2 linked regions of the Homo sapiens genome follow. The protein of the gene in region 2 purifies or fractionates together with the protein of the main gene of each other region. This does not show direct contact. Each region holds a gene or a part of one and is shown on either strand. Other genes may lie near its edges.

The links. The genes of interacting proteins can lie anywhere in the genome.
Region 1: the proteins of SNAP29 (region 2) and TACC3 purify together in Homo sapiens (affinity purification with mass spectrometry; 3 studies listed by BioGRID and IntAct, with this or other methods). This does not show direct contact.

What each region holds. Positions count from the first base shown.
Region 1 is NC_000004.12:1,738,419-1,742,066, reverse strand, and holds part of TACC3 (transforming acidic coiled-coil-containing protein 3), read right to left. Parts: exon of another isoform or gene 2,369-3,648; coding exon of another isoform or gene 2,366-2,368; coding exon 2,289-2,365; exon of another isoform or gene 2,109-2,288; coding exon 2,065-2,108; exon of another isoform or gene 1,586-2,064; coding exon of another isoform or gene 1,506-1,585; exon of another isoform or gene 1,242-1,505; coding exon 1,081-1,241; intron 1-1,080. UniProt on the Homo sapiens protein: Plays a role in the microtubule-dependent coupling of the nucleus and the centrosome. Involved in the processes that regulate centrosome-mediated interkinetic nuclear migration (INM) of neural progenitors.
Region 2 is NC_000022.11:20,869,007-20,872,654, reverse strand, and holds part of SNAP29 (synaptosomal-associated protein 29), read right to left. Parts: intron 2,319-3,648; coding exon 2,122-2,318; intron 1-2,121. UniProt on the Homo sapiens protein: SNAREs, soluble N-ethylmaleimide-sensitive factor-attachment protein receptors, are essential proteins for fusion of cellular membranes.

The sequences.
Region 1 (3,648 bases), on a different chromosome or scaffold from region 2:
TGGGGGTGCAGTGATACAATCATGGCTCACTGCAGCTTCGACCTCCCGGGCTCAAATGATCCTCCCACCTCAGCCTCCCTAGTAGCTGGGACCACAGGTGTACATCACCATGCCTCACTCTAATAACGGGTCTGATTTTCACTCATGTTTCCTGTTCCTTTCACACTTGGTTATTCTGTGCCAGACACTAATTTAAAACTGCAGCAGCAATTTAAAGCATAAGATACCTTCTTCCCTAGAGTATTCAGGCTTGCTTCTGTTAGGCAGCTGGGCCCCAGCCACTGACACCCACCTGACTTCAGGACTCAGATGAGGTGTGGCTCAGCAGGCCCTGCAAGGGCCGCTTTTCCAGTTTAGTCTGACTCCCAGGGGACCCATCTGGTGTCCCCAACCCCCTTGCACCAACAGTGACAGCCCCTCTTCCAGCTGCACCTGCAGGTCCAGCTCCTCCACAGGAGGCGTTGAGCACCTCCGCTCCAACATTGCTGCTGTGGGCAGAACCCTCTGGCGGCCTCGCAGGCACCTTCCAGGCCTGCTCTGGGCAGATGGATGGCCCAGACATCCCTCCTTCCAGCAAGCATGTGGGCCTTGCCCAGCACAGAAGGTGGGGGGCGCTCAGAGTCCCGTGGCCAGGAGGACACCAGGGTGGCCTTGCACAGCCGTGACCACCTTTCAGTGGGCCTCCCGCCTTGGATACTGCATGCCCTGGGTCCCCAACCCTTGGGACCCAAGCGCTCGGACAGCCCAGACACCTTTCCGAGGTGCCCCAGGCCCCGGTGCACCAGCGCTGTCTCAAATCTCACAGATGCCTGATCATAGCCGAGTCGTCTGTCACACAACAGCGGACGGCTCAGATGGCCTCCCTGCTCACTCTGCCTCCTGCCGCCCTCAGCTGCCTCGCAAACCAGCTATGCTGTGACTCCTGCACCCTGTCTCGTTCACAGGTCATCCCATGCCCCCGTGGCAAGGGGAGGCTTGGCCAAGGACCAAGGTGCAAAGACAGCAGCTTGTAGCCCCGCTGGCTTGGACCATGAGTCCATCAGCCTCCGAGGTGAGGACACCAGGGTGGCGGAGACATACCTTGCGGTAGCCCTCGATCACCTCTTTCTGTTTCTCAAAACGCTTGAAGAGGTCGGAGAAGGACTTCTCCATGGAGTTCAGATCTGTGGTAAGTTGGTCTTTTTCTTTTAGAACTTTCTGGATTTCAGCTTTGGAAAGTTCCTTCTGCTTCTGAACTTCCTCTTGAGAAAAGAAAAGCAAACGTTCAGGATGAGGAGGCAACCGAAACGATGGGTGCCAGAGACAGCCCAAGGAATGAGGCAAGGGACTCGAGCGCCAGGAGGAGAGGTGGGCAGTGGGTGTGAGCCTCGGAGGGTGATGGGTCCCTCCACCCAGGATCTTCTAGGCCGGATGCAAAGCCCAGGAAACAGCTGTTTCCTCCACATCAGATCCGCAGGGAACTGGAGCCTGGGCCAGAGGTCCCTGAAGAGGCGGCGCCCAACACCCTAGAGCCTAGGGTGAGGCCTGGGAGCCGGTATGGCGAGCTCCAGGATGTGCGTCGTGCTTCGTGGTGGTCCTGGAGGGACTGCAAGGGCCAGGCGGTCACCTGCCGCCGGCTGACACTCAGCCTAAGACAGATCCCCACAGTAGCACCTCCAGGAGCCCAAGCTTTTGGGAGGCCAGATGAGGCCTGGTGTTCCCGTCCTGCCAGACACCTACAGAGGCTGCTGCTAGACATAGCCGCACGGCGAGGGCAGGGTGGAGTGGGGTAGGCCACGGCGGGACAGACTCTGCTCCCACCACAGCCCCACTGCTAGCTCAGCATCTGCACAACTGTGGGGCCTGCCAAGCCCTGGCTCCGTGGGAGCCACCAGCCTCACTACCACCAGCTTCCCCGCAACTCGCCTCAGTGCTTCCACGGCCGGGCCCATGTTGAAGGGACTCGTGTGTTAGGAAAAGGGGCCTCAGGAGGGTGGGGTCCTAGGCAGGGTGCAGGGCAGGGCCAGGGTGGGGCATAGGCAGCCCCTCGTGGAGGCACGTGGCCTCGGTGGCCCGGGCACTCACCCATGGCCTGGTACACAACCTCTTCGAACCTGTCCATGATCTTCCTGTGGGAGGAGAACAGACACACAGCCATTGCCTCGGGTGCCCAGCGGTCCCAGGCCAGGTGGGGATGGGGACGGGGACAGGGATGGCGAGGGGGATGGGGACAAGGATGGCGAGGGGGATGGGGACAAGGATGGCGAGGGGGATGGGGACGGGGAGGACAGGAGACGGGGCCTCCTTACCCCAGTTCCAGGTTCTTCCCGTGGAGCTCCTCACACCTGCTCCTCAGCTCCCGGTTCTCCTCCTGTGTCGCCTTTACCTGCTCAGGCCACACCCAAGTCAGCAGGCAGGCGGGCCAGACTGACCCTCCCAGGACCTCCCCACAGGATGGGGCCAGCCCGCACCCGAGGTCCCTGGAGCAATGTCCCAGAGGCACAGTTCCATGTGGGGCTTCCAGTGGGACCCTGGGAACCCTGTCGAGGCCAAGGCCACCTGCTCCACGTGCACCCGACTGCCAGGGGGCAGGAGGCATGAGGCTGCTGGCTGTGCTCCTGGGTGGAACCAGCAGGCACCCAACAGGTGTGTGTCCCTGCAGCTGCCCCCGCAGCCCAGTGGCAGATACTAGGGGTCCTAAGTGTTAAATATAGTGAACTCCAAGTTTGTCTTCAAAGAATCAGTAAGTCAGTATGTTCAGATCTCTTTTTTTTTTTTTGAGACAAGAGTCTCACTCTGTCGCCCAGGCTGGAGTGCAGTCACGTGATCTCTGCTTGCTGCAAGCTCCGCCTCCCGGGTTCAAGCCATTGTCTTGCTTCGGCCTCCCGAGTAGGTGGGACTACAGGTGCCCACCACCACGCCCGGCTAATTTTTGTATTTTTTAGTAGAGACAGGGTTTCACCGTGTTAGCCAGGATGGTCTCCATCTCTTGACCTCGTGATCCGCCCACCTCGGCCTCCCAAAGTACTGGGATTACAGGCGTGACCCACTGCACCCGGCCAGATCTCTTCTTTGATTCTCCATTTAAAATTCCTGGTTCTCTTCGCCCCTTGCTTCTAGTTTCAGTAAACAATTTTCCCGCCAGTCCTAATCAGTAGTTCACATCTGTTCCCTGGTCACCTGCTCCATCCTGACTCATCCCGGTCACCTGCTCTGACCTAAGTCACCTTGAGTTACCTGTTCCTAACCGTCCTTCCCGTCAAACTACTCACCCCACCACTCTGACTCTTACCCTGCCCTCTTTAAAATAGCCAATTGGAATTGGCTTAGACTGTGTGGTCCAACCTTAGCCAACAGGGGAACAACACAGCAGTAGGGCTACCTGTGTCAGGAATAAGAACCCCTTCCCCTCCCTTGTTCAGGTGTGCTCTTGCCATTGCTCCATCTGCGAGGGGCACCCTTTCTGCAGAAAGTAAAAACTGCCTTGCTGAGAAAATTAATGTTCGAGCACTATTTCTTTGTGGCACCAGAGAACAAGCATTGTGCATTTCTAACATAAGTTACATGCAGGGGCCACCTGCCCCCGGAGCCCAGGCCTGCAGAGGAGGGGGCCAGCCACACTGTGGTCCCCAGGCCTGCTATTGGGTTACTCACACGGGCTCTGACACA
Region 2 (3,648 bases):
GCGGAGGCGGATGGATCACGAAGTCAGGAGGTCGAGACCATCCTGGCTAACACGGTGAAACCCCGTCTCTACTAAAAATACAAAAAATTAGCCAGGCATGGTGGCAGGCGCCTGTAGTCCCAGCTACTCGGGAGGCTGAGGCAGGAGAACGGCATGAACCCGGGAGGCGGAGCTTGCAGTGAGCCGAGATCGCACCACTGCACTCCAGCCTGGGTGACAGAGTGAGACTCCGTCTCAAAAAAAAAGAATTAGCCAGGCATGGTGTGGGCACCTGTGATCCCAGCTACTTGGGAGGCTGAGGCAGGAGAATCGCTTTAACCTGGAAGGCAGAGGTTGCAGTGAGCTGAGATCACGTCTTTGCACTCCAGCCTGGGCAACAAGGGTGAAACTCCATCTCAAAAAAAATAAATAAATAAAATAAAAAATAAATAAATAAAAGAGAGAGAGAGAGATGGTTATGGAACCTGAGTTATCACATAATATCAAGCAGTTTTTCTGGGTTAAATGGAAGAAAAAGGCTATCAAACCAAAAGAATACTATGGTTACAACTATGAAAATACTGAATAAGGGGAAAATGAAATTTTCTGTTTTTGTGTTGCGGTAGGTAAAGTATAGATTGTCTGTAATGTGGCCATGTTGTTTTTGTAATAAAAACAGACACAGTGATCTGAAATACAAACAATAGTAATCTACTTCAGCAGAAACTCCATTCCTTTATCCTTGAACATGTAACACTGAAGTCTACCAAAATCTCATGAATTTTTTTTTTTTTGAGACGGAGTCTTGCTCTGTCGCCCAGGCTGCAGTGCAGTGGCATGATCTCAGCTCACTGCAAGCTCCACCTCCCGGGTTCACACCATTCTCCTGCCTCAGCCTCCCGAGTAGCTGGGACTACGGGCGCCCGCCATCACGCCCAGCTAATTTTTTGTATTTTTAATAGAGACAGGGTTTCACCATGTTAGCCAGGATGGTCTTGATTTCCTGACTTGGTGATCCACCCGCCTCGGCCTCCCCAAGTGCTAGGATTATAGGCGTGAGCCACCGTGCCTGGCCCCCAGTCTCATGTATGATTTTATATTTCGAGCCAAAACCTGAGGAAAGCAACTTCTAACTTTATTTTTTTGATTTTAATTATTTAGCTTTAAATCTTTTTTTTTTTTTTTTTTTTTTTAGAGACAGGGAGACTCTGTCACTGATGCTGTAGTGCAGTGGCACCATCATAGCTTAACTCTAGTCTCTAACACCTGGGCTAAAGCAATCCTTCCACCTCAGTCTCCCCTGTAGCTAGGAATATAGGCACGTGCCATCATGTCTGGCTAATTTTTTTTTTTTTTTAGTTTTTATAGAGACGGGTCTTTGCTATGTTGTCTAGGCTGGTCTCAAACAATCCTCCTACCTTAGCCTCTGAAAGCATGGGATTTTACAGATAAGCCACTGAGCCCAGCCTTATAATTTTCAAATAAAAATCAATGGGCGAATTGGATTAGATATGACAAATTTAGACATAAAGACTTTTTTTTTTTTTTTTCTTGAGACAGGGCCTCCCTCTGTAGCCCAGGTTGGAGTGCACCATTACAGCTCACTGCAGCCTTGATCTCCAGGCCTCATGAGATCCTCTTACCTCAGCCTCCTGAGGAGCTGGGACTACAGGTGTGCACCACAATGCCTGGGTAATTTTTGTAAAGACTGGGTTCCCACTATGTTGCCCAGGCTGGTCTCGAGCTCCTGGGCTTAAGCAATCTACCCACCTTGGCATCCTGAAGTGTCGGGATTACAGGTGTGAGCCACTGCACCCAGCCCTAAAGATTTTTTAAAGCAAAAATTATGTGAAGTGAGTCACATTTGTACAGATTACGCTGAGGTGAACACCCTCTCTTTCAAAGTAGTGGGGTCACAATTATTGGAGAAGCTATTGACAGACTAGATGTCAATCAAGTGAACATGGGATCAGGGAAGAACAGTTCCTGGTTTCACAATGTTTGAGGACAAATATCCCCTGATGAGTAACTTAAAGGGTTGTTGGATCCCTTCATGGCACTGACGTGGACTGAAAGTCTTGGTCATTTGCACTAATCCCCACTTCTGCTCCTTTATACCCAGATGGTAGAAGATGCACTCACCTGTTGTTGGGCTGGGAGGTGAGGGTGCCATTCTGTTCAGGTGGGGTCTCTACTGGTTTGGATTTGAAGTAATTGACCAGCCCCCCAAACACGCTCTTAATGCTATTGATGTGTTTCTGGCTGATCTTCAAATCTTGGTCCATCTTGTCCACCATCTTCTCTGTGCGCTCCAGGACTCCTCGCTGACGGGCGAGCTCCTGGGGAAACCGAGAGGCAGTGGCATTATAGCTTTCTGTGACTCTCCCCCAGGGCAGTCAAGGACCACATGGAGCAGCCCCTTCATAAACTCTCAGTGGGCACATCTGGAGACGGGTACTGTCATCTGTGAGGGGCACACTACCCTTTCCAACAACACATTCCTTTGCCTCTCCCTCCCTGCCCTACCTCTACTTGCTTTCCTCATTTGTTCATGAGACCCTTTTCCTGAGAGGCTGGCTCATGGCGCCATGTTAAGATGGATGGCAGAGGGTGGCGCAGTGATTCACACCCGTAATCCCAGCATTTTGGGAGGCTGAGGCGGGCAGATCATGAGGTCAGGAGTTCAAGACCAGCCTGGCCAACATGGTGAAACCCCCTCTCTACTAAAAATACAAAAAGTAGCCAGGTGTTGTGGCGGGCACCTGTAATCCCAGCTACTCGGGGGGCTGAGGCAGGAGAATTGCTTCAACCCTGAAGGCAGAGGTTGCAGTGAGCCAAGATGGTGCCAATGTACTCCAGCCTGGGCGACAGAGCAAGACTCCGTCTCGGTTGGGGGTGAGGGGAGATGGATGGCAATGTGCCTGTGAGGTTCAGAGTCTATGGCCTGAACTGGAAGCAGATTCTCTCTAGCCCTCCAACTCTGGGAACCCTCACAGGTTGGGCCTGGCACTGCCCCCTGGACTTTGGTTCTTATATTCTTCCTTTAGGAAGTTCCCATTTAAGGAGTTCCCACTGGGCCACCTGAGCCTCCTGGCCATGGTCAAATCCTCAAATTCTATTTCAAGGACCAGTGTCCCCTCTGGGCCCTATTAGTGTCTGACTCTAGCCCATCCACAATTCCAGCTTTAAAACCTGTTAACACGGGTGACCCTGTCCCAGGGCCTTTGCACACACCACTGTCTCCGCCTGTAATGTTTTCCATCCAGATACTTACATGGCTCAGCCTCTCATCCCTCATCCAATTAGGGTCTCCTTTCAAAGGCCACTCTCTCAGAGAGGCCTTCCCAGACATCTTCCCTAAAGGAGAATTCCTTCTTCCAACCACTACCCCTCTTCTCCACCTCCTTTTCTGTTTTGAGATGGAGTCTTGCTCTGTCACCCAGGCTGGAGTGCAGTGGCGTGATATTAGCTCACTGCAACTTCTGCCTCCTGTGTTCAAGCGATTCTCCTGCCTCAGTCTCCTGAGTAGCTGGGATTCCAGGCGCCTGCCACCATGCCTGGCTAGTTTTTTGTATTTTTGGTAGAGACGGGGTTTCACCATGTTGGCCCGGCTGGTCTCGAACCACCCGCCTCGGCCTCCCAAAGTGCTGGGATTACAGGCATGAGCCA